2 separate regions of the Homo sapiens genome follow, and region 1 is linked to region 2. The links come from fine-mapping of genetic effects on gene expression. A gene starts in region 2. The other region holds a variant in brackets. All regions are shown on one strand. Distances are from middle to middle.

Region 1 (15,571 bases), 180 kb after region 2:
CACCTGCCAGCTCCAGTGAGAGCTCATCTCAGCAACCCCACCATGCTCTGTTCCTCTGTCAGGAAATTGGAGAGTAGATTTTCAAAGAATCTGGCGTGGAGATCGTTCAAAGGTGGGAAACTACGGGAGGAAGGTACTCAGGTGTTGAGTGCAGCCATGGGGCCACTTGAATTAGCATCCAGGCAGCCCGCGCCCCTCCCCAGAGACAATCAGCGGTGTTTCAGTGACAGGTGGGGATTGATGAGTTGTGTGACACCTGACATGCTAACCTACAACCACGTGCCTTCCCAGGAAATCACCAGTCACCGTGAAAAAGGAGGAGGAAAAGAAGCCCCACGTGAAGAAGCCTCTGAATGCCTTCATGTTGTATATGAAGGAGATGAGGGCCAAGGTGGTGGCTGAGTGCACCCTGAAGGAAAGTGCAGCCATTAACCAGATCCTTGGAAGAAAGGTAAGACCTGCCCTCTCCCTCCAGGCCAGGGAGGCAGCGTCCCTGCATTGATGGCTCCGTGTGGTCTCTGACCCTCTCTCCCCCAGTGGCACAACCTGTCTCGAGAAGAACAGGCCAAGTACTACGAGCTGGCCCGGAAGGAGCGGCAGCTTCACTCGCAGCTCTACCCAACCTGGTCAGCCCGGGACAACTATGTAAGTGCACACTCTGGGCAGAGGACGCTCAGACCCCAGGAACAGCCTCTGCAAGAGGAGGAAGGGTGAAGGAAAGCAACTGCATTTATTTTTATTTATTTTATTTTCTTTTATTTTTTGAGACAGAGGCTCACCCTGTCACCCAGGCTGGAGTGCATGCAGTGGCGCGATCTCGGCTCACTGCAAGCTCCGCCTCCCCGGTTCACACCATTCTCCTGTCTCAGCCTCCCGAGTAGCTGGGACTACAGGCACCTGCCACCACACCCGGCTAATTTTTTGTATTTTTAGTAGAGACGGGGTTTCACTGTGTTAACCAGGATGGTCTCGAGCTCCTGACCTCGTGATCCGCCCACCTCGGCCTCCCAAAGCGCTGGGATTACAGGCGTGAGCCACCGCGCCCGGCCAGCGACTGCATTTATAGAGGACTCTTAAGATCAGGGAGAAGCCCATACTTCTCTAGAAATAAGGAAGGTGTTTTAATTCTCAGGAGGTCAACAAGTCCTGAGGACGGACTTCAGTTGATGCATTTCCCTTTGAACTGGACTCTGCCCTCGATTTCATAACACAGGGCACGGGGTTAGCTGTGGTAGGAAGAGTTGTCTCCAGCCACTCCTAACCCAGGGCTCAAAGACCAGTGTGTGAGCCTCAGGGGGCGTGTCTCTAAGCTCCCGGAAACCAAGCCAATTTTCGCATGCGTGTTCTTCTTTGCTTTTTTTCTGGTAAGAGGACCCACAGTTGCATCAAACTTTCAAAGGGACCTGGGACCCCTCAGAAAAGATCTAGAAGCACTGTTCTAGGGAGAGAAACAGAAAAACAGAGTCTGAAGGGCAGTGGAGGGAGGAGGCCTTCCAAGAAGGCCTGGACACCCGACCTGGAGGGGAAACGCGTTTGTAGGGGAGGAAGGGCTCCCTCTGCCTCCTCACGGGCTCCCACGGCTGTGATCTGAATTATCTCTCCACACTCTCCCTGAGGGATCGAGAGCAGTAAAGGGCAACGTCCTGTCTTCTCTCTGATCTGGGAGCCCCTGAGAAGCCAGCATTCTTCTCTCCCAGCTTACCTCTTCCTTTGGCTGTATTTTCCAGGGTAAGAAAAAGAAGAGGAAGAGAGAAAAGCAGCTGTCCCAGACACAGTCACAGCAGCAAGTCCAGGAGGCAGAGGGTGCGTCTCGGGGCACTGGCCTCTTCTCCTGCTTTTCCTTTTGTCACAGCCACACCTGCCCATGCTGTCTCTAGCTCCCTGATGGGTCAGGGCTTCTGCCTCGGTATTCGCGGGCGGGTATTATTACCCCTTTCTCGAGGTGGCCACTTAAGAGGCTCTGAGATGTGAAGGCATTTTCCCAGGCACTCTGCTTCAGTGGTGGTGGTAGGATTTGATCCCAGGACTTTGTCACTTCAAAGCCTAGACAATCTAATTCCATTGAAAAGTGAATCATCCTACCTGAGGGTTAATGGAATGAGGTTGAAATTGTCTTTGAAATACCCTTAGGAAGGCAGCACATGAGCCCCTGACATCCCACCTGTCAGTGGATCCAGGGGAGCCCGGGTTTCCTTGGATGTTTCTTTGGTTGAACACCAGAAAAAATTAGTTTGCTTGGGTTTAGGAGGCACTTTGTGTCAAAACCATGTATAAAATCTCTATATTACCAGAATCATGCCTAGCACAGAAAGATGCTCACACTGTGACGATTATTATTAATATTTAGGTCACGCCCCCCATCTCATGCTCACTCCAGGACAAGTGTATCGCTGCTTGCACGATGTAAAGTGCTTTCAATCTCTCTTCTTCATTCCTCCCTCCCTCCCTTTCTTCCTCCCTCCCTTTCACCTTCCCTCCCATTCTCCTTCCCTCCCTTTCCCCTTCCCTCCCTCCTTTTCTCCCTCCCTTTCTCTTTCCCTCCCTCTCTTTCCCTCCCTCTCCCCCTCCTTCCCTCCCTTCCCCCCCTCCCTTTCTTCTTCCCTCGCTTTCTCCTTCCGCCCTCCCTTTCTCCTTCCCTCCCTCCCTATTTCCTTGCCTCCCCTCCTCCCTTCCTTCCTTCCTTCCATTATACATAGGAGCGCACATGAGTGGAACCCGTACCTGCTACAGAACCCGCTGTCTGGCACGCTGTTCAGCAGGCATGCACTCTCTCTGACTGTATTAATACCATAAACCAAAGATTTCAAAGCAAACTGGAGATTCATCCCAAAAGTTACCAGCTTTAGGAAAGGAGGGTGGTCCTGTGAGACACTGAGCCGTCTTCTCTCCGATCTGATGCTGGGTGGATCTTCATCAGTTTGGGCGTTGCCTCTTCTCTGTGCTCTGGGTATTTGTGAATGCAGTTTCCTAGTCTTGAAAGCCTTGGAAGTAATGTCAGGTCCTCGCCAAAATCATCCCTGTGTCTCCAAAGCACATGTATCGCCAGGGCTGTTCCTCAGCCTCCTCCTCTCACAGAGCTATAGCTGCTCACTCTTTCTTGTATTTTCCCCCTAGGTGCCCTGGCCTCCAAGAGCAAGAAGCCATGTGTTCAGTACCTGCCCCCCGAGAAGCCCTGTGACAGCCCTGCCTCCTCCCACGGGAGCATGCTGGACTCCCCGGCCACTCCCTCTGCAGCTTTGGCCTCACCAGCTGCCCCTGCTGCCACCCATTCGGAGCAAGCCCAGCCCCTCTCCCTCACCACCAAACCAGAAACCCGGGCCCAGCTGGCTCTCCACTCTGCCGCCTTCCTGTCGGCTAAGGCTGCAGCCTCCTCCTCTGGGCAGATGGGCAGCCAGCCTCCCCTCCTGTCCCGGCCCCTCCCCCTTGGGTCCATGCCCACAGCTCTGCTGGCCTCTCCCCCGTCCTTCCCCGCCACGCTCCATGCCCACCAGGCCCTCCCGGTGCTACAGGCCCAGCCTCTTTCCCTGGTCACCAAGTCTGCCCACTAAGCTCCCCCCGACCCCTGCAGGCTGTCACATGACTCATTGAGTAGTAATGATTCAGAAGAAAAAGAAAAAGGAGACTTTATTGGTCAATATTTGACCACTCTGGACTGTTCTGTAAAGTGGCTGGTAACAACAGCACTTTACAGTTTGTAGATGTAACCAGTAGCTGATCTTAAGGCTTTTTTAAAAAACAAAACAAAACAACAAAAAAAAATCTTTATAAGAAAGAGAACTGAAAAGTAGCGTGCTATTCGTCCTGTAGGTGCTGTGGTGGATGGACCTGGGCAGAGGGCACTTCTCTCTCTTACCTCTCTTGCACTTTCTGTCTCCTGTCTCTTCTCGCCCCTGCCGCCTGCCCCAGCTTCCCCGACTCCATCTGCAGCTCTGCCATTGTGACATTTCCTGTTACCCAGCCCAAGTTTTCATC[G/A]TCTGCTCAATACCGTGGGTTCTTCTTCGTCCTCTGTCCTCTGCCCAGTGTGAGGCCATCACCATGTGAGAAGACATCTTGGCCTGATTTGCTGCCACCAGCGTCCCCTCCCTCAGTGGGCCCGAACTCGCCAGCCCCAGCTTTCAGTGGAGAAAGCGGTCCTCTGAAATGGTTTCCTCCCAACCCCCGCATTTAAAGGGACTCAAGGTGCCTGCCACTTCCTCAGCGAAGAAGTCTGTGTTCCTCCCCGTCCTTGCCAGTGGCGATCATCCCTTCACAATCCCAGAGTGGCAGGCGGGACCGGCCCCATGGTCTGGCTCCTGTCACCTGGGTCCGTGCCAGCACAATCTGCCAAAGTTCTAGAGACCCTGTTCCCTTCCCCATCACCTCACATGCTTCTTCTGTGTGTATTTCTTTTTGTTTTTATGGTTTTTGGAGCAATTTAAACTCCCAGTTGTTTATTTTCACAAAAGAAAATAAAATTGCAGTTGCAAGACCTTTTCTGAGTGTTTCTTTAGTGCTTTTGTTGAATCAAACCACCTGTTTGTTTCACTCCCAAACCCTGTGTTAGACTTTCGCAGATATGCAAAGGAAGATTGCCACTTGCCACAGGGGAATGTTAGGCATGCCTGACACCCTTAGAAAACCTGAACCCAGCTTCCTGTCTCAAATGTGCATGGGCCAGTCAGTGTCCATGACTGAGCTGCAAAGGGGGTAATCATTTTCACAGCTGATTTAAATGAATTTGCCGCCTGGAATGACATTCAGCTTATGCTTCTATCACCCATTTGACTCGTAATTGCCAAGATGTGAGGAAGCATCTTTTGGATACTTTCCATAGTATCTAGCACCACAATTAATTTTTTGTAACAGCTTTATGGAGATATACTTCAGCCATTTAAAGTTACACTTCACCCATTTAAAGTATACAGTTCAGCTGGGCAGAGCCGCTCTTGCCTATAATCCCAATGCTTTGAGAGGCTGAGGCAGGAAGATGACTTGAGGCCAGGAGTTCAGGACTAGCCTGGGCAACATAGCAAGACCTGATCTCTTTAAAAAAAAAAAAAAAAGCAACTAGCTGGGGATGGTGGCACACAAGCCTGTAGTCCCAGCTTCTCAGGAGGCTGAGGCAGGAGGATTGCTTGAGCTCAGGAGCTCAAGACTGCAGTGAGTTATGATTGTGCCACTGCATTCCAGCCTTCTCAACAGAGTAAGACTCTGCCTCAAACAAAAAAGGTATACAATTCAGGCTGGGTGCGATGGCTCACACCTGTAATCCTAGCACTTTGGGAGGCCGAGGCGGGTGGATCACCTGAGGTCAGGAGTTCGAGACCAGCCTGGCCAACATGGCGAAACCCCGTCTCTACTAAAAATACAAAAATTAGCCAGGCATGATGGTGCGCACCTGTAATCCCAGCTACTTGGGAGGCTGAGACAGGAGAATCGCTTAAACCCGGGAGGTGGAGGTTGCAGTGAGCCGAGACAGCGCCATTGCACTCCAGCCTGGGCAACAGAGCAAAACTTCATCTCAGAAAAGAAAAAAAAGTAGACAATTCATTGGCTGTATGTTCAGAGTTGTGCACCTATCACCAGTCAATTTTAGAAAGTTTTTGTCAGTCCCAAAGGAAGCCCCATATCCTTTGAAAATCACTCCACATTTTGCCCATCTCCCCCAGCCCTAGGCAACCACTAATCTACTTTCTGTCTCCAAACTTGTCTATTCTAGACATTTCATATACAGTCATGCATCGCTTAGCAACTGAGACAACGTTCTCACAAATGCGTCGTTGGGCAATTTTATTGTGTGAACATCATAGAGTGTAGTTAGAAAAACCTAGATGGTGTACACACCTAGGCTATATGGTATAGCCTATTGCTCCTAGGCTACAAGCCTGTACAGCATATGCTACTGTACTGAATACTGTAGGTGACTGTGACACAGTGGTGAGTGTTTATGTATCTAAACATAGAAAAGGTGGCTGGGCGTGGTGGCTCACGCCTGTAATCCCAGCACTTTGGGAGGCCGAGGCAGGTGGATCACTTGAGGTCAGGCAGGTGGATCACTTGAGGTCAGGAGTTCGAGACCAACCTGGCCAACATGTTGAAACCCCATCTCTACTAAAAATACAAAAATTAGCCAGGTGTGTGGCACATGCCTGTAATCCCAGCTACTTAGGAGGCTGAGGCACAAGAATCACTTGAACCCGGGAGGCAGAGTTTGCAGTAAGCCGAAAGCGCACCACTGCACTCCACCCTGGGCGACAGAGTGAGACTCTTTCTCAAAAAAAACAGAAACAAAACATAGAAAAGGTGCAGTAAAATCTGGTGTAAAAGATAAAAGATGGGCCGGGTGCAGTGGCTCAAGCCTGTAATCCCAGCACTTTGGGAGGCCGAGCAGGGTGGATCACCTGAGGTCAGGAGTTAGCGACCAGCCTGGCCAACATGATGAAACCCCGTCTCTACTAAAAATACAAAAAGTAACTGGGCGTGGTGGTGGGCGCCTGTAATCCCAGCTACTCAGGTGGCTGAGGCAGGAGAATTGCTTGAACCCAGGAGGCAGAGGTTGCGGTGAGCCGAGATCGCACCGTTGCACTCCAGCCTGGGCAACAAGATCAAAATTCTGTCTTGGGGAAAAAAAAAACAAAAAACAAGATAAAAGATGGCATAGCTGTATAGGGCATTTCCCAGGCATGGAGCTTGCAGGACTGGCAGCTGCTCTGGGTGCGTCAGTGAGTGGTGAGTAACCATGACGCTGTACACTTAGGCAACACTAGGTTTATAAAGAAATATTCTTCTTTCTTCAAGAATAAATTAACCTTAGTTTAACTTTTTTACTTTATCAACTTAAACACTTTTTGACTCTTGTAATAACACTTAGCTTAAAACGCAAATACACTGTACAGCTGCACAAAGATATTTTCTTTATATCCTTATTCTATGAGCTTTTTTCTAATTAAAGTCTTTTTTGGGGCTGGGTGCAGTAGCTTATGCCTGCTAATCTCAGCATTTTGGGAGGCCAAGGTGGGCAGATCACTTGAGATCAAGAGTTTGAGACCATGACCTCAAAACCCCAACTCTACTAAAAATATAAAAATTAGCCGGACACGGTGGCGGGCGCCTGTAATCCCAGCTACTAGGGAGGTTGAGGCAGGAGAATCTCTTGAACCCGGGAGGCGGAGGTTGCAGTGAGCTGAGATCATGCCACTGTACTCCAGCCTGGGCAGCAATGCGAGACTCCCTCTCAAAGAAAACAAAAACAAAAACATTTTTTTTTTTACTTCTTAAACTTTTTTGTTTAAAACAATAAAAATATAGCAAATACATAAACCAGTAACATAGTCATTTCGTTCATTAAAAAGTACTATAGGCCAGGCGCGGTGGTTCACGCCTGTAATCCCAACACATTGGGAGGCCGAGACGGGCAGATCACCTGAGGTCAGGAGTTCGAGACCAGCCTGGCCAACATGGTGAAACCTCTCTACTAAAAATACAAAACTTACCCGGGCATGGTGGCGGCCGCCTGTAGTCCCAGCTACTCGGGAGGCTGAGGCCAGAGAATCGCTTGAAGCCAGGAGGTGGAGGTTGCAGTGAGCCGAGATTGTGCCATTGCAACCCAGCCTGAGAGACAAGATCAAAACTCTGTCTCAAAAAAAAAAAATACTGCACATAATTCTGTGTGATAGACTTCTTTGTATGACTGGCAGTGCAGTGGGTGGCTCCACCAATGCCAGCCTCTCCTTCCCCTGCCCCATGTGGCTGGGTCTGCAGCCTGCTCGGCCTCCCCTCTCTCAGACCGGGGGAGCTGAGGGGGTGAGGTAGAGACGGCCCAGGGGCAGAGCAGGGGGGTCGGGCTTGGTGCACAGGCAGACTCTGCCTTTGCTACTTCCTGCCTCTCTCTCTGTGACCCTGACCTCCCTTCTCCCCTGTCCCAGGACCTCTGGGAACTGACACTGTCCTGGCCAGGCCCCAGCATCTCACCCAGGCAGCCCAGCTAGAGCCATCTGTCCCTCTTGCCCTCCATCTGTGTTCCTGTGTCTCTTCCTCCTGAACACAACCTGAGGGCCTCACAAATATTTAGTTACATGAACGAAGCAGGCCGGGCACGGTGACTCACGCCTTCAATCCCAGCACTTTGGGAGGACGAGGCAGGCAGATCACTTGAGGTCAGGAGTTTGAAAATAGCCTGGCCAACGTGGTGAAACCCCATCTCTACCGAAAATACAAACATTAGTGGGTGTGGTGGTACATGCCTGTAATCCCAGCTACTTGGGAGGCTGAGGCAGGAGAATCGCTTGAGCACGGGAGGCGGTTGCAGTGAACAGAGATCGCGCAACTGCATGCCAGCCTGGGCGACGGAGCAAGACTCCATCTAAAAATAAATAAATTTTTTAAAAAATGGAAAAAGCAGAGGAGCCAGGGACCCGGCATCCCTCTGGCACGGGAATGGGAAGACAGCAGAAGAATCTGTGGGGGCAGTTTCCGGAACACCGGTCTCAGGTCATCTGCTGAGGAGTGGGGAAGCCCAGCTGTTTAGGTCTGGGGAACATCAGGTGCCCCACAGTGGCTGTGGCCTCTGCCATAGTGTAGTTCTTCCCTCCTCCCTCCAGCTGAGTCCTGAGATGCCAAGTACCAGTCAGGCTGCCTGCCTTTGCTCACATGCATTGGCATCCCTCTGGAGGCCTTGTGTTCTGATGTCACACTAAGAATCATGCATGTTCACTCACTCCGTGACTGCATAAAAGTTCATCCTGAAATCAGGCTGGTAATGAGCTGCTGTTCATGTGTGGTCTTCATGGGGGGAACCCAGTCATGTGCTCCACACTTCAAGACACGAAGGGGAAGATGGGAGGCAGTAAGCTTGACCTTCCTGCAGGTGCTGAGCCAGCTCATGGGGGCTGAGGACCAGGGCTGGGCTTTACCTGCCTCTGAAGGGGCTTGGAGCAGAGGCAGGGGAGGTGGAAGAATAGGAACCTGGGGCAGTGTCCTTCCCAGGCAGGAGGACACAGAAGAGCAGGCCCCTGCCAACATCAAGTTGAAACAGCTGTAAAAGTGGCCTGGGCACAAAGCTGGCAACTGAAGATAAGGCTCAGGACACAGCGAGCGGTCACCCTGAGGCTCTCCTGGGAGCAGGGAGTGGCTGTCTCCGGCCATGGTCCACAAAGGCACCAACCACTCCCCTTTGCAGGTGTGAAGCAGCAGCTGGGGACAGTTCAGCCCGGCTTAGGCATGACCTCTGTTTTCATCTGCCTGCGAGGCACCAAGGAGGACCTGCATCTGCCGTCCACCAACTACTATGTTTACTATGACACGGACATGGACCAGGCGTAAGGTGCACGTGTGTGTGTGGCCCGTGCCTCCCTGCTTGACTCAGAGAACGAGCAGAAGTTATGGAATGGGAGGAAGTAGGCAATTTCCAATTTGCACCTGGAAGTTTGTCACACCAAGGCTGTGGCTCAGCTTCACCCCTGTGGGGAGTCCCTAGGGACGAGCAGTCCTTGCAGTGGTTCTGGGGTTTTGAGGACAAAAGCCTGGAGATCGCACCACACTCTTGTCACACGCAGGATGGAGCGCTACATCTCCATGCCCAGGGAAGAGGCTGCGGAACACATCCCTCTTCTCTTCTTCGCTTTCCCATCAGCCAAGGATCCGACCTGGGAGGACCGATTCCCACGGGGGGCTGCACGTCCTGGGTGAGGGGGTGGAGGGAGGGGCCGGGCAGTAGTAATATCAGCTCTGATCCCCAGGCCGGTCCACCATGATCATGCTCATACCCAGCACCTACGAGTGGTTTGAGGAGTGGCAGGTGGAACTGAAGGGAAAGTAGGGCAGTGACTATGAGACCTTCAAAAACTTCTTTGTGGAAGCCTCTATGTCAGTGGTCCTGAAACTGTTCCCACAGCTGGAGGGGAAGGTAGGGGGTAAAGTATTTGGGGTGGTGACGGACCTCATGGTGCTATTTCTGCCCTTTCCTTGAGACAGGGGAATTGGGCCCCAAGACATGAGCCCCAGGGAAGGACAGGGCACCCAACCCCGGAGTCAGTGAATGGGAAAGAGTGGAAGAGGGAGGGGAGCCAGGATCTCACATGCCTGCCCCACCCTTTCTGCCCTCAGGTGGAGAGTGTGACTGCAGGATCCCCACTCACCAACCAGTTCTGGCTGCTCCCCGAGGTGTCTGCTACAGGGCTGACCATGACCTGGGCCGCCTGCACCCTCGTGTGATGGCCTTGAAGGCCCAGAGCCCCATCACCAACCTCTGACAGGTATACTCACTGCCCCATGTTGTCAGGACCTGAGACCCTGGGCCCCTGTCGCCCAACGTCCTCTGTTCCTGCCCTCAGGCCCTGCTGTCCCCTGCAGCCTCCCATCCCCTGAGCAGGGCTGCCTGGGCAGGCTGTGGCCCCTGTCTGATTGGAGCCAGCTCTGGGTGGCCCTCATGTGGAGGGAAGAGCACCAAGGCCCCACCCTCCCCTGGGCCTGCCTGGGTGCACACTCAGGGGCCTCTGCTCTTGCCTCCTAGGCCAGGGTATCTTCACCTGTGGACTGGTAGGGGCCCTGCAAGGTGCCCTGCTGTGCAGCAGCGCCATCCTGAAGTGGAACTTGTACTCAGACCTTAAGGATCTTGTCTCTAGGATCTGGGCACAGAAGAATTAGTTCCATCAGGGAGGAGTCAGAGGAATTTGCCCAATAGCTGGGGCATTAGTTCCTTGCACATATAAACCACTCTTATTTGGTTCTGATGCCTGAAGAGAGGCCTAGTTTAAATCACAATTCCGAATCTGGGGCAATGGAATCACTGTTTCCAGCTGGGGCAGGTGAGATCTTTCCACCTTCTATAATATGCCATCCCTACTAATAGGATATTGACTTGGATAGCTTGATGTCTCATGACGAGCGGCGCTCTGCATCCCTCACCCATGCCTCCTAACTCAGTGATCAAAGCGAATATTCCATCTGTGGACAGAACCCCTGGCAGTGTTGTCAGCTCAAGCTGGTGGGTTCAGTTCTGTCCTGAGGCTTCTGCTCTCATTCACTTAGTGCTACGCTGCACAGTTCTACACTGTCAAGGGAAAAGGGAGACTAATGAGGCTTAACTCAAAACCTGGGCATGGTTTTGGTTGCCATTCCATAGGTTTGGAGAGCTCTAGATCTCTTTTGTGCTGGGTTCAGTGGCTCTTCAGGGGACAGGAAATGCCTGTGTCTGGCCAGTGTGGTTCTGGAGCTTTGGGGTAACAGCAGGATCCATCAGTTAGTAGGGTGCATGTCAGACGATCATACCCAATTCATATGGAAGTCCCGGGTCTGTCTTCCTTATCATCGGGGTGGCATCTGGTTCTCGATGTGCCAGCATCAAGGCACCTTCAGGGAGCTCGGTACCCGAGCCTCAATCAAGCCTTATCCTCCAAATATGCAGGGAAAGGTGACACAGGGCAGGGAAGGGTGACGTCAGGAGTCAGGGCATCGACTGGTAAGATTACTTCATTGTGTTGAGGCAGGCTGCAGGGCATTCCACACAATGGCACAGCAGAGGACAGCACAGGGAGGCAACAGAGTGTTCCCAGCAATGGCCCAGCTACTGAAAGCAGGCAGCCAGGCTGGGAGGAGTCAGGTGGCAAGAGAGTTGGTCAGGAGCAGAACATGGAAAGCCAGAGAAAGTGTGCAAAGCCCAGAAATGGCATCTGCAATTTACTGGTACATGTGTGTGTTGGATGGAAGGTGAAGGAAGGCTCAAAAGGCATAAAAAGGACCTTTCACTTATGTTAAACTGACATGCCAAAGGTCTTATTGGAGTTCATCTTAATATAATATTAATAAATTTATTGGCCGAGCGTGGTGGCTTACACCTGTAATCCCAGCACTTTGGGAGGCCAAAGTGGGCGGATCACGAAGAAGAGATTGAGACCATCCTGGCCAACATGGTGAAACCCCGTCTCCACTAAAAATGCAAAAATTAGCTGGGCGTGGTGGCACGCACCTGTAGTCCCAGCTACTCGGGAGGCTGAGGCAGGAGAATCGCTTGAACCTGGGAGGCGGAGGTTGCAGTGAGCCAAGATCATACCACTGCACTCCAGCCTGGTGACAGAGCAAGACTCTGTCTCAAAAATAAAATAAAATAAATAAATAAATAAATGTATTAAATCCATTGCTTTAACATTTTGAAATTTATTTTGGTTTCTGTTCAACAAAACCAAACCACATTGGGATGGCATTTACAGAAGCTCAGAAAAACATTATGCACTGAAAAATACTTCTCATTAGACCACAACAAGCTTTAAAAAAATAAAATTAAGTAATTATAGTTAAGTTACAAAAAGCTGAAAGTATAAAACATTGTGGAAACAGTGACCATCTATTAACTGGGAAAACACAAAAGAAGAGAAACAATTTCAACCATTAATCATTTATCAAACATGAAGTCTGGTGCATTAAAGGAATATCTATCAGAGGGTGAGGGGCTGGCTTACTGGCAGTTTGACATACTATACAGCTCAGACCCAAACCCTTCACAGAGAGACTCTAAGTGTACATCTGACTTGCAGAACTAGACGAGTTGAGTCACTGTTAGCTCTGGATATACCGTTAAATTAAACCTCAAAATCTCTCCCCAGGACTCTTGCTCAAGCAAGTCACGCCAAATCCAACCTTCCTAACAGGGGTTTTCAGAAAATGGCCTGCAGAAGCACAGGATCTGGTGCCTCACAGTTTCCTCCATGCTGCAATGCTCTAGTTCTCATCACGCCCATAGCATCTGGCATCAGGTTACCCTGTACAGTCAACGGCCATAGAAGTCGCCAGCAGGGAAATTCCAGAGGTTTAGAATTCTATCAGCACATGTGTCACTGGAAGCCATCATGGGAGTACTATGTCAGAGCGTATGTAACTAGCTGTCAGGTCTTTCCCCGTTGCCTCAGCCTTTCTACACAGACTGGCCTTCAACTTCCCCTGAGTCCAGAAGTAGACTCTTTCAGCAACTCTATTCAGGAATCTGCAGCAGGAAAACTGCTTCCTCTATTAACATCTATGACTGAAGCACAGATGTGTCTAATAGAAATCACCCTTCACCCAAAAGCTGGGCGCAGAAAGGGAAGCCCTTAGCTGACTATAGGAGGTGCCTCTTGTGGCTCCACGTGCTTCTTACACACCACCCCCCAGCTTGAGCGATGCCTCAGCCAGCTCACCCTCATCCACACAATCGCTAGAAAACATGCTTCAAATATTCTATCTTTGAAAAGACACCATGCAGAAAATAAGCTTTCCTCTGATGTGCGGTATTTTCTTCAATGCTATTTCTTTCTTTTTTTTTTTTTTTTTTGAGACGGAGTCTCGCTCTATTGGCAGGTTGGAGTTCAGTGGCACGATCTCGGCTCACTGCAACCTCCGCCTCCCGGATTCAAGCAATTCTCCTGCCTCAGCCTATCTAGTAGCTGGGACTACAGGTGCACGTCACCATGCCCGGCTAATTTTTGTATTTTTATTAGAGACGGGGTTTCACCATGTTGGCCAGGATGGTCTCGATCTCTTGACCTCGTGATCCCCCCGCCTCGGCCTCCCAAAGCGCTGGGATTACAGGGGGAGCCACCGCGCCCGGCCTTTCTTCAGTGCAATTTCTAAAGAGAAACTTAAATCCTGTTGTATTCTTTCAACACAAGCAATGATACTTCTCAGAGTCTGCTCAAAAGCTCAGCTCTGTGGACTCCGTGACAAAATGTACGCGTCCACTGCCGACCCTCTTGGTTTCTGAAACCAACCTTTCTTCCTGCTCTCCTCTTTAAGAGCAAACCCCAACATGTATAAGGTCACAGCAAGTGGTAGCCAGGAAAAGCTGTGGGACCCCTCATTTGAGTCACATCCATATGGCATGGAGAAAGAAAACCTCTCTGCCAGAAGGAACTGAACTCTGGAAGTCCTAAGGAAGGTCACCATGATCAGCAGATAGGAAAGCATTGCCAAGGGCTGTCCCTCAAGAGCTTAGTTTTCTTAGGGAGACCAGAAAGACATCAGATCCTGACTGCCCTGTTTTGCTCAAGTTCTGAAATGAGTGGCATGATGAAGAGCTGGTGGAGCTGAGGGAAAGAGTCAACCATGTGGGGTGGGGTAGTGAGGAAGGTGTATGAGGAAACAAACTGGGCCCTGACGAAACAGGCGGATTGGGGAAGGAGAAAGAAGGAAGGGAGAGAAACCTAACCAAAGAAACATGGGAAGCTGGAAAGTCGAGGGCACAGCCGGAATAAAGGCACAGATGGGCACCCCACAGGAGGGGCCTTGGCCAGGTTGGGATGCAGAGAAAAACAGGCAGGAGGGTGTCAATCTATAGCATCCTGAACCCCAAAAGGTCTGTAACTGGATTCTCTAAGCCTTGAGAAGTTCACACCAAAGCTTCAGACCAGGGAAAATATTTTGGAAAGATCAGTCTTTCCAAGAGTGAGCTCCTTTCCAAGAAGCTGGACAGGAAACCCAATAAATGTGGATCTGAAAAAACAAAATCCAAGAGAGAAGCAAAATGGGCTGGGGGTGTGCAATAAGAGAAGCAAGGAAAATGGAAAGACTGTAGCTGAGGATCTTTTATTAAAAAAAAATGGATGGGACTTTGGTGATGAGAGAGAAAAAGGGCAAAAGTCTGCAGTTAGGAATTTAGGTGACCGAAGACTGTCCTAGACAGTTGGGAGGGACAGGCTGATGGACAGAAGAGAGAAATTCCTTTCAATGACAACCAAGCTGAACTATTCGATACCAGCAGAACTGGGTTCTTTAGGGATTAAGCCAAGACAAAGACTTGGGAATCACTCACTCCGAGGATGAAGAATGGGTTAATGGCTGAGGAGACAGTCAAAGGAATAGAGAGGCCTGGCTTTGAGGGCCTCTTCACCACCAGCACAAGATAAGGCAAAGGACCATTTGTCAGAGACACCAAGAAAGGGGAATTTCCATTTGGATGGTCAATAGTGTCCAGTTCTGCCAAGGACAAGACTAAGCTTTGAGAAAAAGCCATGGATTTGGTGATTGGATAACTGGTAACCTTTAGAAAAGTTTAGTTGACAGACAGAGACCGAAGTGAGTTAGTAAAAGTCATGAAGAGAATGAATGGCAACTTAAGGGAAGCAACATACTGGAGAAGTTGAGCAGCGGGATGAATAACAAATAGGACAGATGGGAACAGAAAAATCTGGGTGCATACGAAGGTGGATGGAAAGGAGCTGGTACAGATGGGCACAACCAGAAAACATGAGGAGGGGAAAGGAAGGGAAAAGGAAGGCAGGCAGGGAGAGAGACGTGAAATAGCCACAGTCTTAGGGGATGCTAGAGAAGCCTAGAAGATTCCTCAGGTTGGTGCAAAGTATTATAAGACTAACGCATCAGTACAGAGAATGACCCAAGAAGGGTAGGAGTTCATTCCTTACCTTCATAAAGTAGGCTATCCGCCAAGAATGAAAATGTCAACTCAAAGCTATGGGCTGTTTTAAGCAAGGTGGAAGATAATATAAGAAGCATGGTCCTTTCTTCAGACTTACTGCCTTGACAGCACAGAATTCATCTTATTTCCCTCATCTCCCAAGTTATTTGTATTTCCCTGAGATCAGCTCAGAAACAACTCTCTTTAGGC
Region 2 (15,571 bases):
TTTTGTCTACTTCTCCTTTTCGTTCTGTTTTTACGCATATTTTTGAAACTATGTTATTAGGTAAATGAAAATTTTGAGTTATTTTTATCTTCCCCTTTTATCATGATGAAATGTCCCACTTATTTCTACTAATATTTTTGTTTTAAAGCCTACTTCATCTAACATTAGTATAGATAAATCAGCTTTCTTCCCCCACGCTATCCCCGGAGTCTTACTCTGTTGCCCAGGCTGAAATCTGGAATGCAATGGCGGAATCTTGCTGCCTAATGGTTTCAAGCAATTCTCCTGCTTCAGCCTCCTGAGTAGCTGGGATTACAGGCATGTATCACCATGCCCACCTAATTTTAATTTTTTTAGTAGAGATGAGGTTTCACCATCTTGGCTAGGCTGGTCTTGAACTCCTGGCCTCAAATGATCCACCTGCCTCAGCCTCCTAAAGTGCTGGGATTACAGGCGGGAGCCACTGCACTCGGCCTAATCAGCTTGCTTTCTTTTATTTATTTATTTATTTTTGAGACGATGTCTCACTCTGTCGCCAGGCTGGAGTGCAGTGGCACGATCTTGTCTCACTGCAACCTCTGCCTCCTGAGTTCAAGTGATTCTCCTGCCTCCGCCTCCCGAGTAGCTGGGACTACAGGCGCATGCCAACACACCCAGCTAATTTTTGTATTTTTAGTAGAGACAGGGTTTCACCATATTGGCCAGGAGGGTCTCGATCTCTTGACCTCGTGATCTGCCCGCCTTAACCTCCCAAAGTGCTAGGATTACAGGCATGAGCCACCGTGCCCAGCTAATCAGCTTTCTTTAGGTTAGCATTTTTTATGTTTATCCTTCTCCCTCTTTTTACTTTCAACCTGATTTGTCATCACCTCAAGGGTGTAGCTTTTGTAAGCAGCAGATAGCTGCTTTTTAAAAATATACTCTAAAAATCTTGTCTTTAAATTTGGAGTGTTTAGATCATATACATTTAAAATAATTACTGAAATTTTGACTGTATCATTTTAATATATTTTTATTTGTCTCATTTGTTCTTTAATTTTTGTCTCCTTTCTTCTTTCTTGCTCATTAGTTTGTTAGTAATATTCTTTTCTTTTTTTTTTTTTTTTTGAGACAAAGCCTCCCTCTGTCACCCAGGCTGGAATGCAGTGGCACAATCTCGGCTCACTGCAACCTCTGCCTCCTGGGTTCAAGTGATTCTCCTACCTCAGCCTCCCAGATAGCTGGGACCACAGGTGTGTGCCACCATGCCTGGCTAATTTTTGTATTTTTAATAGAGAAGGGGTTTCACCGTGTTGATCAGGCTGGTCTCGAACTTCTGACCACCTGCCTAGGCCACCCAAAGTGCTGGGATTACACGTGTGAGCCACCACACCCAGCCAGTTATACATTCTTTAATTATTCAGTGAGTGTTATTCTAGGGATGAACACATGCATTCTTGACTTACTAGAGTGCACCTTATTTATTTATTTATTTATTGAGACAGAGTCTTGTTCTCTCTCCCAGGCTGGAGTGCAGTGACACAATCTCGGCTCACTGCAACCTCTGCCTTCTGGGTTCAAGCAATTCTCCTGCTCCAGCCCTCCTAGCAACTGAGATTACAGGTGTGCGCCACCATGCCCAGTTAATTTTTGTATTTTTAGTAGATACGGGGTTTCGACATGTTGGCCAGGCTGGTCTCAAACTCCTGACCTCAAGTGATCCACCACCCTCAGCCTTCCAAAGTGCTGGGATTACAGGCATGGGCCACCACGCCTGGCCTACTAGAGTGTACTTTAAATTCCTACTTTCACGACTTCTCAGACAACCTTAGTTTGGTTCAATGCCATATCCCCCCTCTGCCTTTTGTCCTATTGTTGTCATGTATTTTATTTTATTTTATTTATTTTTGAGATGGAGTCTCGCTCTGTCGCCCAGGCTGGAGTGCAGTGGCACAATCTCAGCTCACTGCAACCTCCACCTTCCGGGTTCAAGCAGTTATCCTGCCTCAGCCTCCTGAGTAGTTCAGATTGCAAGTGTGCGCCACCACATCCGGCTAATTTTTGTATTTTTAGTAGAGATAAGGTTTTGCCATGTTGGCCAGGCTGGTCTCAAACTCCTGACCTCAGGTGATCTGCCTGCCTCGGCCTCCCAAAGTGCTGGGATTACAGGTGAGCCACTGCACCCAATCCCCATTGACTATTGATGTTATTTTCAATGTCCTAAACTCTTTTAGCAATGGTGAAAGGCAAGTTTATTTTCTCTGGACATATTTCTGTGGCTACTGCTCTTGAGTACAATTTAATTAAGTCACCATCAGTTAATAGCTCTCCTTGCTTTACTAACAAATGAGCCTCTAGGACACTTACTTTGTGAAGAAATTTTGCTGTGATTAGATATTCTGATTTCAATTTTTTTTTGAGATGGAGTTTCGCTCTTGTTGCCTAGGGTGGAGTACAATGGTGTGATCTTGGCTCACTGCAACCTCCGCCTCCTGGGTTCAAGCGATTCTCCTGCCTCAGCCTCCCTAGTAGCTGGGATTACAGGTGCCCGCCACCATGCCCAGCTAATTTTTTGTATTTTTAGTAGAGACAGGGTTTCACTATCTTGGCCAGGCTGGTCTCGAACTCCTGACCTCAGGCAATCCACCTGCCTCAGCCTCCCAAAGTGCTGGGATTACAGGCGTGAGCCACCGCGCCCCGCTTGATTTCAATTTTTAAATTTTTCTGGTCATTCCTTTCCTCTCAGTTGGGAAAATTGTTGATGAGTGCTTACTCTCGTGATGTTGACATATGTTCTCTTAGCATAACTGCTGTTGTTGCATACTAAACACAACGCTTTGTCACCTAATTTGCTAATAAAATAATCCATACTTCACTGTGCCTTCAAAGCACAAAATTCATAGTCTACTGATATGGTTTGGCTCTGTGTCTCCATCCAAATCTCATGTTGCATTGTAATCCCCATGAGTTGAAGGAGGGGCCTCGTGGAGGTGACTGAATCACGGGGCAGGGGGACCTTCTTTCTTGCTGTTCTCATGGTAGAGTTCTTACGAGATCTGGTTGTTTGAAAATGTGTAGCGCTTCCTCTCTGTCTCTCTCTCCTGCCACCATGTGAAGAAGTCGCTTGCTTCCCCTTCACCTTCTGCCATGACTGTAAGTTTCCTGAGGCTTTCCAGTCATGCTTCCTGTTAAGCCTGTGGAACTGTGAGTCAATTAAACCTCTTTTCTTCATAAATTACCCAGTCTCAGGTACTTCTTTATAGTAGTGTGGCAACGGATGAATACATCTACTTTTCTTTTCTTGTTTTGACATAATGGATATGCCCTGGTAATAAAAATTTAAAATAAATGTCGCAGTACAGAGATATGCATGGCACTGAAAACACTGTATCACCGTGATTTGTGGTGTACTGAGCAGCAGTATGAAGTGATAAGAGCATATACTGTCCCTGTTGCAACTACAGTCAGGCACCATATAACAAAGTTTTGGTCAATGAGGGATCACATACATGATAGGGTCCCATAAAATTGTAATACTATATTTTTACTGTGCCTTTTCTATCTTTACATATGTTTGGATACACACGTACCAATGTATTACAGTTACCTGCAGTATTCAGTACAGTAACATGGTGAACAGGTTTGTAACCTAGGAGAAACAGGCTATACCATATACTCTAGGTGTGTAGTAGGCTATACCACCTAGGTTTGTGTATACTCCATATGTTCACAGAGCAATGAAATTGCCTATTTCTCAGAATGTATCCCTATCATTAAGCAATACATGTCCTAAACTCCATCATTGTTTTGTGAAAGCAGCCATTGGCAATGTATAGGCTAAGGAGTATGGCTATGTTCCAATAAAACTTTATCAACACTGATATTTGAATTTCATATAATTTTCATGTGTCATAAATATTATCCTTATTTTTATTTTTATTTTTTGGGACAAAATTTCGCTCTTGTTGCCCAGGCTGGAGCGCAACGGCGCGATCTCGGCTCACTGCAACCTCCGCCTCCCGGGTTACAGGCATCTGCTACCACGCCTGGCTAATTTTTTTTTTTTTTTTTTTTTTGAAACGGAGTCTCGCTCTGTCGCCCAGGCTGGAGTGCAGTGGCACGATCTCGGCTCACTGCAAGCTCCGTCTCCCGGGTTCACGCCATTCTCCTGCCTCAGCCTCCTGAGTAGCTGGGATTACAGGCGCCCGCCACCACGACCGGCTAATTTTTTGTATTTTTAGTAGAGACGGGGTTTCACCGTGTTGACCAGGATGGTCTTGAATTTCTGACCTCAGGTGATCCACCCGCCTCGGCCTCCCAAAGTGCTGGGATTACAGCCGTGAGCCACTGCGCCTGGCCCTTATGATCTTTTTCAACCACTTAAAAATGTAAAAAAAGCGGCCGGGCGACGTGGCTCACACCTGTAAAACCAGCACTTGGGCGGATCACCTGAGGTCAGGAATTCGAGACCAGCCTGGTCAACATGGAGAAACCCCGTCTCTACTAAAAATACAAAATTAGCCGGGCGTGGTGGTGCATGCCTACATTCCCAGCTACTCAGGAGGCTGAAGCAGGAAAATTGCTTGAACTCGGGAGGTGGAGGTTGCAGTGAGCCGAGATGGCACCATTGCACTCCAGTCTGGGCAACAAGAGTGAAACTCCGTCTCAAAAAAAAAAAAAAAAAAGTAAAAAAAAAAAGTCTTAGCTGAGACCATTCAAAAACAGGCAGCAAGCTGTAGTATGCTGCTCTAGATGGTTGTTTTTGGTTTGGCCTCTATGCCTGGTGCTACAAATCACCAAATTCTCTGAGGGGATGAAACAGCAGTGAATACAAACTCGCTTGAATGAATTTCCCTTCTGGTATTTTGACTCCTCACGTCCTGGCTGACTTGGTTGACAGTGATGCCTTCAACTCAGCTGGGTTTTGTTGTTTTATTTTGGTATTTTATCCAGTTTATAGTTAGTTGTTCTTGATGAAGGAGTCAATCTGACATCAATACCCCATTAGAATGGGAAGTGGAAGTCTACATGTTAATTTTAATTTGCTACTTTTGCTTACCATTATGAGCCTCCTTCTATATTGACAAATATATCTCCACAATGTCATAACATTCCATTAGATGAATGCACCATGATTTAACTTAATAATTCCCTATAGGGGACATTGAAATTGTTTCTAGATTTTTTCACTGTGATGAACACACTTCTACAGGTTTATTTTTGTACCTAGTTGTTTCCTTCAGATAAAATCCTAGAAGTACGTGGATAAGTCAAAGGGTTCACACTTTTAAAGGTATTTCACAGGTATTACCAAACTTCTCTTTAGAACTGTTACACAATGGCCCAGCATCTATGTGCTTCTTAGTATAGGGGCCAATGCTGGGTGTTACCATTCTTTTCTTCCTTTGCCAATCTGACAGATGAAAACTGGTTATCTCAATGCTGTTTCCGTTTGCATTTCTGGTTTATAGGTGTGGCAGGCTGATAATGGCTTACTCCCAAAGCTGCATCTATGACCTAATCCCTGGAAACTGTGAATGTTTAAGGAAAAGAGGTCTTTGCAGATATGAAGTTAAGGATTTTGACATGGACAGGTTATCCAGGTGGTCCTTAAATGCTATCACAAGTATCACTTTTTTTTTTTTTTTTTTTTTTTTGAGACAGAGTCTCACTCTGTCGCCAAGGCCGGAGTGCAGTGGTGCCATCTCAGCTCACTGCAACCTCCTCCCTCCAAATTCAAGCGATTCTCCTGCCTCAGCCTCCCAAGTAGCGGGGATTACAGGCGCCTGCCACCACACCTGGCCAATTTTTTGTATTTTTGGTAGAGACAGGGTTTCACCATGTTGGCCAGGCTGGTCTGGAACTCCTGACCTCGTGATCCACCTGCCTTGGTTTCCCAAAGAGCTGGGATTACAGGCGTGAGCCACTGTGCCCGGCCACAAGTATGGTTTCTTACAAGAAGGGGGCAGAGGAAAATTTGTCACAGACAAAAAAAGGAGAAGGCAATGTGATTACAGACGCAAGGGTGGGAGTGATGTGGTCACAAGCCCCCAGAAGCTGCAAGAGACAAGGGTAGATTCTTTTCGGAGCCTCCAGAGGGAGCATGGCCCCGTCAACACCTCCATTTCTACTCAGTGAAACTGACAGTGGACTTCTGTCTTCCACAACTATGAGAGGATAAACTTCTGTTGTTTTAAGCCACCAAGTTTTCGTGATTTGTGACAGTAGCAGCAGAAAACTAGTACAATAGGTTTTTCATATATTTATGGACCATAAACATGAAAAATCGTCTGACTTTTAAATCTTATAAAAATAAAATAACACACAATAATACAAAGAGTATGATTCTATGTATGTACATCAGAATATCTGTAAATACGTTTACATATGTTCATAACTGCCTAGGAAAGTGTCTGGAAGGATATATACCAAACTAGTGACAGTGGTTAACCAGAGGCAGTTAACTGAAAGTGGTTAATTAGAAGGGTCCTGTGTCCTGAGGGGGAAAGAGGAACTTTTACTTGTTACTCGATACTGCTCAAGATACATCTGTTATTTGAAAACGCTTTATGAGACTGTACTCATGTATTGTGTAAAAAATTAGAAAAGGCATATCTGCTTGTTATAAAGTTCATAGAAACCAGAAAACTATCTCCTTTCACTTATCCTTTCCCAGAAATAGTCATTGATAATAATTTGCATCTTCTCAGATTTTTTTCTACGCAGAAATAAATGTGTATAATTTTTTTAAAAACAAAAATAAAATAGTGAGTGTCATATATAGTGTTTCATTTAAAGATGTTCCTCCAAAATCAATCTTGGTCCATGTGCCTGTGTGTGTGTGTGTGTGTGTGTGTGTGTGTGTGTGTGTGTGTGTGTGTATGGGTGGGGGGAGGGGCGGGGACACTGCATAGAACTGGCCAGCTGCATGGACTGTCACTGTAAAGAAAGATGAAGAATGCATGTCACCAAGCTCTCTGATGCTTTGAACCTAGCATATGTGGCTTTGCCCATATGTGCGGGCACCTCTGTAGAAACTCTTCTGCCAGTTGGGCTGAAAATAGTTTTACATAGTTCCATACTGCCTTCCAAGCTGTTTTCAAAGTTTATGCTCTAATAGTTCCCCACGGAGGATAACACAAGATATTCATTTTCCTCAAACTTTCCCGCACAGGTTGGAGAGAAACGACATCTTAATGTCATTGTAACAGGCATTTCTTTATTAAAAAAATTTTTTTTTTGGAGACAAGGTCTTGCTATGTTGCCCAGGCTGGTCTCAAACTCCTGGGCTCCAGCGATCCTCCTGCCTAGGCCTCGGGAGTAGATGGAACTCCAGGCGCGGGCCGTGGCGCTCGCACCACAGGCATTACTTAGGTATGAGGCTGGTTGAGCATTTTTCTCGTGTTCACTGGCTACTCACGCAGCTTTGTGAATGGCTTCGGAGATCACTGGACAGGCAATTTTCCCTCTCAATGAACCAAATCCAAATTCTTTTGGAACCCAAGACCGCGATTTTTCGATTTAGGACCTAGTCCCAAACAATGAAGAAAAGGTGATCTTCAAGATTTCAGCAGGGAAATCTGTATATCTGTACAAGGTTGAAAACCTGGGCCGGGGGTCGCGTTGGAACCCCACAGGAAAAAGGCGCGGAAAGCCGCCGGGCATTTTCCGGGGTTCCATAGATGTCCCCAGTGTCCTAGTCCGTGCATCAGCTCGCGCACTCGGAGGGACTCTAGGCAGGGGGAGGGCCCCGCGGCCAGTATGTGCGTCCGAGGCTTTCCCGCAGGGGGCAGTGCCGCCCGCCCGCGCGCCGATACGGTGGGAGGGGGTGGGAACCTGCGCGGAGTTCTGGAGGTTCTTTGGGAGAAAGTTAGGGGATGCGGAGGGGTGGGCGCAAGACTTCCAGGACTCCAGGGAGGCCGTGGGGAGGGCCGCCGAGGGTGCAGTGTGAGGCGCAGGAGGGGGTTGGGGGCGGTGCACGTTGCAGGGAGACGCAGCCCCTGGAAGATGCGAGTGTGAACGTGTGAGTGTGAGTGCGTGTGTATGTGTGTGTGTGCGCGCGCACCGCAGCTCTCCGGGTTCCGCGAGGCGCGCGGGTGTCAGCTTGCAGCCGGGGCTCCTCCCTCCGGCCCCCCTGCCCAGCCCGGCGGTCCCTCCTCCCTCCCTCCCCGCTCGCCCCTCCCCGGCGGGCCAGGGGCTGGGACGCCCCGGCGGAGCAGGCGGCGGCGGTGGCGAGTTGGGGAGCCCTAGGCTCGGCGCTGCCGGAGGGGCCCGAGCCGAGCCGCCTGCGCCCCGGCCGGGCAGCGCCGGGCCCGCTTCCCGCGGGGCCACGCCCTGTCAAACTTTGTTGCGGCGGCTAGCGCAGCGGGCCCGCAAGCGGGCGGGAGGGGCGCCGGGCCGGGCCGGGCAGGGCGCGGGCGGCTAGGGGCTCCGAGAGCGGCGGCCCCGGCCCGCGGCCCCACCATGCCCCAGCTCGGCGGCGGGGGCGGCGGCGGCGGCGGCGGCAGCGGGGGAGGCGGCGGCTCCAGCGCCGGGGCGGCCGGCGGAGGGGACGACCTCGGGGCGAACGACGAGCTGATCCCCTTCCAGGACGAGGGGGGCGAGGAGCAGGAGCCGAGCAGCGATAGCGCCTCGGCGCAGCGGGACCTAGACGAGGTCAAGTCGTCCCTGGTCAACGAGTCGGAGAACCAGAGCAGCAGCTCGGACTCGGAGGTAAGGAAGCACCGCGGCCACCCCCGGGGGATCCCGGCCCTGCGTCCGCTCACCCGCTCTTGCCTTTGTGTCTCCTCCGCAGGCGGAGAGGCGCCCGCAGCCCGTCCGGGACACTTTCCAGAAGCCGCGGGACTATTTCGCCGAAGGTATGTGCCCGCTGGGACAGCCCCCCACTCTCGATTCCCGCTGCGCTCCGCTGCTCAGCCCGGGCGGCCCACCGTCCCCCTTGCTTGGGTGGACGCACCCTTGCCCTCCGCCTTTATTGGCGGCAGCCCCCGTGGGGCGCGCGTGGGGGGCGCTGGGGTCCCCAGCTCCCGCCTCGAGCCCCCTGCCGCGGCGCTGTCAGTCCCGGGGGCCTGGGCCTCACCTCGCCTTGGTCTTGTTCGCAGTGAGAAGGCCTCAGGACAGCGCGTTCTTTAAAGGACCCCCGTACCCTGGGTACCCCTTCCTGATGATCCCGGACCTGAGCAGCCCGTACCTCTCCAACGGACCCCTGTCTCCCGGAGGAGCGCGCACCGTGAGTGCCCGTCGGGCGCGCCGGGGAGGGTGGGAGGCCGCGGCCCGCAGGATGCGCCCCCGGGCTTGGCCATGGAGTGGGGGATGGGGCCTTCTGCGCCGATCCCAAGCAGAACTTGTTTGCGGAGTTGAACTACTCTCTGGCGGCCGAGCGCGAGGCTGCGCTGGCCAGTGCCTGGATGAAAGTAAAGTTACTTTAACTTTTCCCCTCTTGCGGGTTGAGGTTTTGGAGTCCACCTCTGGGATCTTCCTTGGCCTCCAGAATTCTTCGCCTGCACCGAAGGAAACTTGGATTTGTGCCCGCTTTGGGGGGGTCTCGCTTTCCTTCTTGGAAATCGGTCAGCTTTCTCTGGCAGTGGGGCAAGGGGCCTAGGGAGCTGGGTTGGCGACGTTGTCCTCCGACTCCGGGTTCACTGGGCGGCTGCAGGCTGGTTCCTAAGAAACCCAGTTTTCGTGGCGGGTTATTCACAGCCCCCGTTCCCACCCCCAGCCCTCGCACCGGGGCCTCAGCTTTTCTGCGGAGCTAGCTCCGAATTTTAAACTCGCGTAGATGATTTCGAGGCGACCCAAGGCATTCTTCAAGTTGAGGAACTTGGCTTTTTCCCCCTTTTGTCGCCTGCTTTTCTCATTTAAAGCGAGCGCTGCGACACTTTAAACCTGTTAATGGGCGCGTATTGTGTGCTGCCCGCTGGCATTTAGAGCGGTGATTAAGCAAATTGACCGGGCCCCAGACGACGTGCAAATGAGGGCGGATTCCTTCGCCCCCTCTCTCTGGCTCTAAACTCCCGCCCCCCGCGTTGCGAGGGGCGCAGCTGGGGGCTGGCGAGGCCTTTGTGTCCCCCAAGCCGCCACTCCACCCCTAGGCTCCCTGCCCAGGTGCTGGGTCCGATGACAGATGTTGGGTGAACGCCTACCTACTGTGTGCCAGGTTCCCGCGTGCTGCTGCTTGGGCGCGATGTGAATCGTAGTAGTTCTTTGCTTCCCGCCCAGATTCCCATTGCCTGCCACTTCGCTGTCGACGGTGGGTAAGGGGGCAGGGAGTGTTAGCCTCTTAGGAGCAGGGTCCCAGCAACACACTTTATGCTAAGACTGCCCTAAAATAACGACGATAATTAAAGGGTGCTAGAGAAAGGCTAGGTGCTGAATGGCCATTCCTGCTGTCATTGTACAGCGGTCGGTGGAGAGCCAAGTCCTCCACATTTGGTTCAGCGGGGGCGCTACCATCACCAGATGGGTTGGAGGGGGATTGACGGGGGGCGGTGGAAGAGACTCTGACTGAGAGAGAGGGGAATGGGGAGTGGGACTACACAGACCTCACAGTTTTGCCCCGAGAGGGAGGGAGGTCTTGCAGCTTTGGCCCTGCTGGCCTGGAGCACCCCAGGAAGTCCTGAATGTAAGTGTCAGTTTTGCAGTGAAAACTGGATGTGGGTCTATGGCTGTTGCTTTTTCTCATTAAAAGAAAAGAGGTGCGTGCCAATCAAAGGGGGGGGGGGATCAACGAGCTGCTGCGGTCTTATTTAGGTTTTCAGTGATTCCCACCAGTGCCCACACATGTAGCTTAGTTCTGCAAGTTTTGTTGGGATTCGTGTAACTTTGCGTATGGGGGAGAGTTAATGCCGCTAAAGTCTCAGGTTTCCATTTACTATTAGGATATCTAGAGAGAGGGGTCTGGGAGGCACTAGCATCTGTGCATCAGCCCTCAGCCAAGTCCTGATGCAGTTAAAGTCACCAGAAATGACTATTTCACCATCAAATATGACTATGGCTCCCTCAAGGCTATTTCTCCATGCACCCATTTCTCTTTAGGGCATTTTGATTCATCCAGGCTCTGCTGTCTGCTCTCTCTGACAGTCCAAGTGAGACAGATTTTTGTTAGTGTCCCCTCCTTCCTTCCTTCTATCACATTATGTGTTCTTTCGCCTAAGAACTTCCAAAGGCTGATTCTTGCTGATCCTGGAGATTCCTGATTACTAAATCCAGGCCCGTGTGGGATTTTGGAGCCCCTCCTTGAGGCAGCCAACCTTTCGTCTCTGCATGCCTCTCTGACTGTCCTTGTTCATCTCTGCAGTTGTTCCCTGCCCTGGCCCAGGCACCAGCCTCCTTTCAAGCCTCCTAGGACATGTACTTTCTTGGGGACTTAGTATGTCCCATCCCACCCCCATACCTACATCTTGTCTCCCTGGTGACTTGCCCTTACAGAAGTTAGTTCAGTTCCCAGTGTTTCTGTGTCTCTGTGTGCCTTTCGCTGTGTTAGTTCACGGATATACTGGGGAAGTGTCCTGCCCTTAGGTCAGCACAGTTAAACCTAATTTGACCCTGTTCGTTTGCTGCCAGTAAGTAAAGCAAGTGAGGAAACACTTAAGCACTTGGTTGTCTGGACTATAGGGTGGAGATGATGGTTTTCTGCTGAACGATTCTATTAATATAATTAAGATAATTGTCACTGTAGGCAAATGGTAGGTACAGACAAAGTGGCCCTCTGTTGGTTTCCCAGCCTGGTAAAATGAATGTGGATAGATACGAGTGGGGAGGGAGGAGGGAGGAAAGTGCCTGGGATATATGATCCGATCTCTCTGACATCTTAGGTCTTTTTTATTGTTTGGCCTCTAAACTGCACCACTTTAGGCTTTGCTGCTCTAAGGCCTAGAGGTAGTATAAAATTAGGTGACCCCAGTTATCTGCTGCTCTAACACTTCCTCTGGAAATACCAAGCCAGATGCAGAAGTGGGAATTGTCTGGATTGTTTTCAGGGTGTTAATGAACCCTAGGAATAGCAGGCAGGAGGCTTCAGCAGCCTCACCCACTGGCATAATTCCTGCTGAGACCACTGGGGGCTGGCCCATCCTACAGTCTGGCCATCTCTCCCCATGAGCCATCACCCTTGCCCTCCACTCTGGTTTGGCTGGGATGCTGGGAAGTGGCTTTTTCCTGAGGCTCTTTAGAGAAGAGGTCCCCTCAGCATGGGATGTGGGCCAAGTCTCTGTGAGCTGCAATTGCTTCTTGTCTGGAGGCCCTGGGACCCTGTGAAGAGAGGAATAACTGCCACAAACCATTTTTCAAATAATCACCTCAAAATTATACATTCATTTCTGAAAAGGCTTCACGGTTTACTAAACTACTTTGGGGCTGTTGCCTAGAATTTTGTTAGGAAAATGTAAGTTGGCTGGGTGCGGTGGCTTAGGCCTGTAATCCCAGCACTTTGGGAGGCCAAGGCGGGCGGATCACCTGAGGTCGGGAGTTCGAGACCAGCCTGGCCAACATGGTGAAACCCCATCTGTACTAAAAATACAAAAATTAGCCAGGCGTGCTGGCGAGCACCTGCAATTCCAGCTACATTGGAGACTGAGGCATGAGAATCTCTTAAACCCGGGAGGCAGAGGTTGCAATGAGCTGAGATTGTGCCACTTCACTCCAGTCTGGGCAACAGAGTGAGACTCTGCCTCAAAAAAAAAAAAAAAAAGAAAGAAAGAAAATGTAAGTCAACACATTAGAAAGTGAATGCCAAAAATGGTTTAAGACAAAGAAGAGCCAAAAAGAAAATGTTGAATGTGGTTCAGCAAGCCAGCTACAATGTGATAGAAAGTAATTTGACTGTGACCATGAAGTGAGGGCTGATGACATTTTGGAAAGAAACACTTCTAGGTAGTATTGCTGAGGGAGTCTGTGGTTTTTGTGTCCATCTTATAAATTACAGAACCTCTTTCGTTCAGCACAAGCACACGAAAGGCTTTGCTTTATTATTTCTCAGACCATCTCATCTCAGGCTTGTGTATGAAATTGTCCTGGTCCTCAAACGCGTGCTCATTTTTAAGTCCTTTATATCCCACTGCTTCCCATGGGCAGTCTTGCTCATATCCTGGGAGCTCCTGTTCTTTCAGACCCAAAGGAACCCAAGCAGAAATCTTTGTATGTATATGTATGAAGAAGTTGTCTGTTTTTAGGAGTTGTATGTAAAAGCTAAGGAAACCTTTTCTTTTGGAAGATCAGTATAAACATGCTGCTTTTGGTAAAATTCTTTTGAGCCATTTCATCTAAATATAACTTCTGTTTCATTTTTTTTTCTAAATATAACTCAGAGTTTAATGAGGGCTTTTCACATGGAACAAGCTTTTGAGAGGGCCTGTGTTGCTGAAGTTTTCGCCCTTGGATTGCTGGGGTGATATTGGTGACAAACTCTGTAGGGAAGGACTGGGAACCTGTCAATCTTTTTTCTTTGGTTGGGTGGATTGGGCAGGGAATAGCTGACTTGATTTGTTATAAGTTTGGAAGGTTATAGTTTGGTCACATTCTTCATTGATCACACTTTTAGGGATTCTTGAAGAAAAGGGAAGCAAAACATACACACACACCCCCACCCAATCTAACAGCGTATTCCAGCCTTTACAGTGATGTGCAGTGTTACTAAAATAATTGGGAAATAAAAAAGAGTATAAATGATTAACTCGCTGGAAAATCTTTTAAATCTTCTATAATAGGAAGGCCCTACTTACATTCTAATTTAGAGACACCTTTTACATGCCAACCTAGGGAAATTTAGATTTACACTTTTCTTTTTTTTTTTCTTTTCTTTCTTTTTTTAGACAGGGTCTCACTCTGTCGCCCAGGCTGGAGTGTAGTGGTGTGATCTTGGCTCACTGCAACCTCCACCTCCTGGGTTCAAGTGATTCTCCTGCCTCAGCCTCCTGAGTAGCTGGGATTACAGGTGCGTGCCACCACGCCCAGCCAATTTTTGTATTTTTAGTAGAGACAGGGTTTCACCATGTTGGCCAGGCTGGTCTCGAACTCCTGACCTCGTGATCCACCTGTCTCGGCCTCCCAAAGTGCTGGGATTACAGGCGTGAGCCACTGCGCCCAGCCTAGATTTGCACTCTTAAAACTAATTCCTAACTCTTAAACTTCTTCAACTGAAGTCTATTGGATACCTATCATGGGCAATGGCTAAGGGACCATGGGAAACAAGATAAGACCCAGGCTTTGCCCTAAAGGATTTAAAAATTAAGTAGGAAAGAAGTCATGGTAGCACTGTAATAAGAAGTTAAGAGGTAGTAAAGTCTGGAGAAGCATTTTCATAATAGAAATTGAGAAAAATTACTTCCTGGGTGATCCAAGAAGGCAGGTCGAAGAAGTAGGTTTAAACTGGTCCTTAAAACTCAGTCATTCTTTAATCCAGGTAATTCTTGTTAATTTAGAAGAATGTAAATAGTAAGAGGAGGCATTTAGAGTGAAAAAGTGGAAGTCTTCCTTCACTCTCATCTTGAGGTGGGAGCCAGGACCAGGAGAGTGAAGACATGGAGGAAGGAAAAGTTCAGGGCGATTTGGGGGTAATGCAGCTTATTTCAGTTCCATTTGCCTGGAAGGAGAAGGGGCCAGGACATGGGCTAGGGGACCTAGAATGCCATGGAAGGAATCTGATCTTATTTAAGAGGCAGCAGAGAACCATCAGAAGTTAGGCTGGGAAGTGATGTGACTTGTACACATGGCTAGAAAGATAATGGTGGATTGGAGGACGAGGACCTGGAAGGGGATAGAGCAATTAGACTCACAGGAGTCAGGGGTGAGGTGAAAAGGGCTTCAGAGTAGCAGAGTGGAAAGGAAAGGTGGGATGGGAGGAAATAGGATTCTTGTCTGTACCTCTTTGGGGAGGGGAGGTACCAGATCCAGAAAGTGGCTGATGTCACAGTTAATTCCTGGTGTCCAAGCTCAGGCACCTGGAGACTGACTTCTGTGGGTGGGGAGGCCTCCCCAGTCTCTACCTCCCCAGTGGTGGACAGATGCTTACTGAATATTTTGGCGATGACAGAGCCCACACAGTCTATGAGAGGCTCTCATTGGGAGGAACCCTCGGTTTCATTGGAGACACGTTAGGTGTGAGGGGATGTTGAGGGGATGATTGAAACTGGCTGATGTAAGAGAGGTATAGAAGTAGGAGAAGGGATGCTTAGAGCAGGGACAGAAGTCGTTGGAGGAGGATGGAAGGGAGCATTGGGTAAGGTAGGAGAAGCACTTAGGGACTCCCCTCCCCCTTTCTTTTCCTCCATGGTGGAAGCTGGAGGGAAAGAAAGTGGGAGGCCAGGTGCAGTGGCTCATGTCTGTAATCCCAGCTCTTTGGGAGGTCAAGGCGGGTGGATCACCTGAGGTCAGGAGTTCGAGATCAGCCTGGCAAACACAGTGGAAACCCTGTCTCTACTAAAAATACAGAAATCAGCTGGGCGTGGTGGCAGGTGCCTGTAATCCCGGGTACTCAGGAGGCTGAGGTAGGAGAATCACTTGAACCCAGGAGGCGGCACCTGTATCCCAGCTACTTGGGAGGCTGAGGCAGGAGAATTGCTTTAACCTGGGAGGCAGAGGTTGCAGTGAGCTGAGA

What was found. PIP is the estimated chance that this variant, and not a neighbour inherited with it, causes the effect.
Region 1: its variant is fine-mapped to the expression of TCF7L1 in whole blood (TOPMed, PIP 0.98).

The regions. Positions count from the first base shown.
Region 1 is chr2:85,305,915-85,321,485 of GRCh38, forward strand. It overlaps TCF7L1 (transcription factor 7 like 1), which reads left to right. Exons shown (of 12, transcript NM_031283.3): 9 at 292-451; 10 at 538-645; 11 at 1,728-1,803; 12 at 3,115-4,473. The coding sequence ends at 3,548. It overlaps TGOLN2 (trans-golgi network protein 2), which reads right to left. Exons shown (of 4, transcript NM_006464.4): 4 at 12,113-15,571. Among named protein-coding and RNA genes, the nearest start is that of TGOLN2, 14 kb to the right of the region's middle. RefSeq lists enhancers at 299-799, 3,722-4,605, 7,471-7,971. The variant G/A (reference allele first, on the strand shown) is at 3,973.
Region 2 is chr2:85,125,243-85,140,813 of GRCh38, forward strand. It overlaps TCF7L1 (transcription factor 7 like 1), which reads left to right and starts at 8,150. Exons shown (of 12, transcript NM_031283.3): 1 at 8,150-8,691; 2 at 8,774-8,837; 3 at 9,081-9,208. The coding sequence starts at 8,443. RefSeq lists a silencer at 7,750-7,819 and enhancers at 8,185-8,759, 9,335-9,909, 9,910-10,483.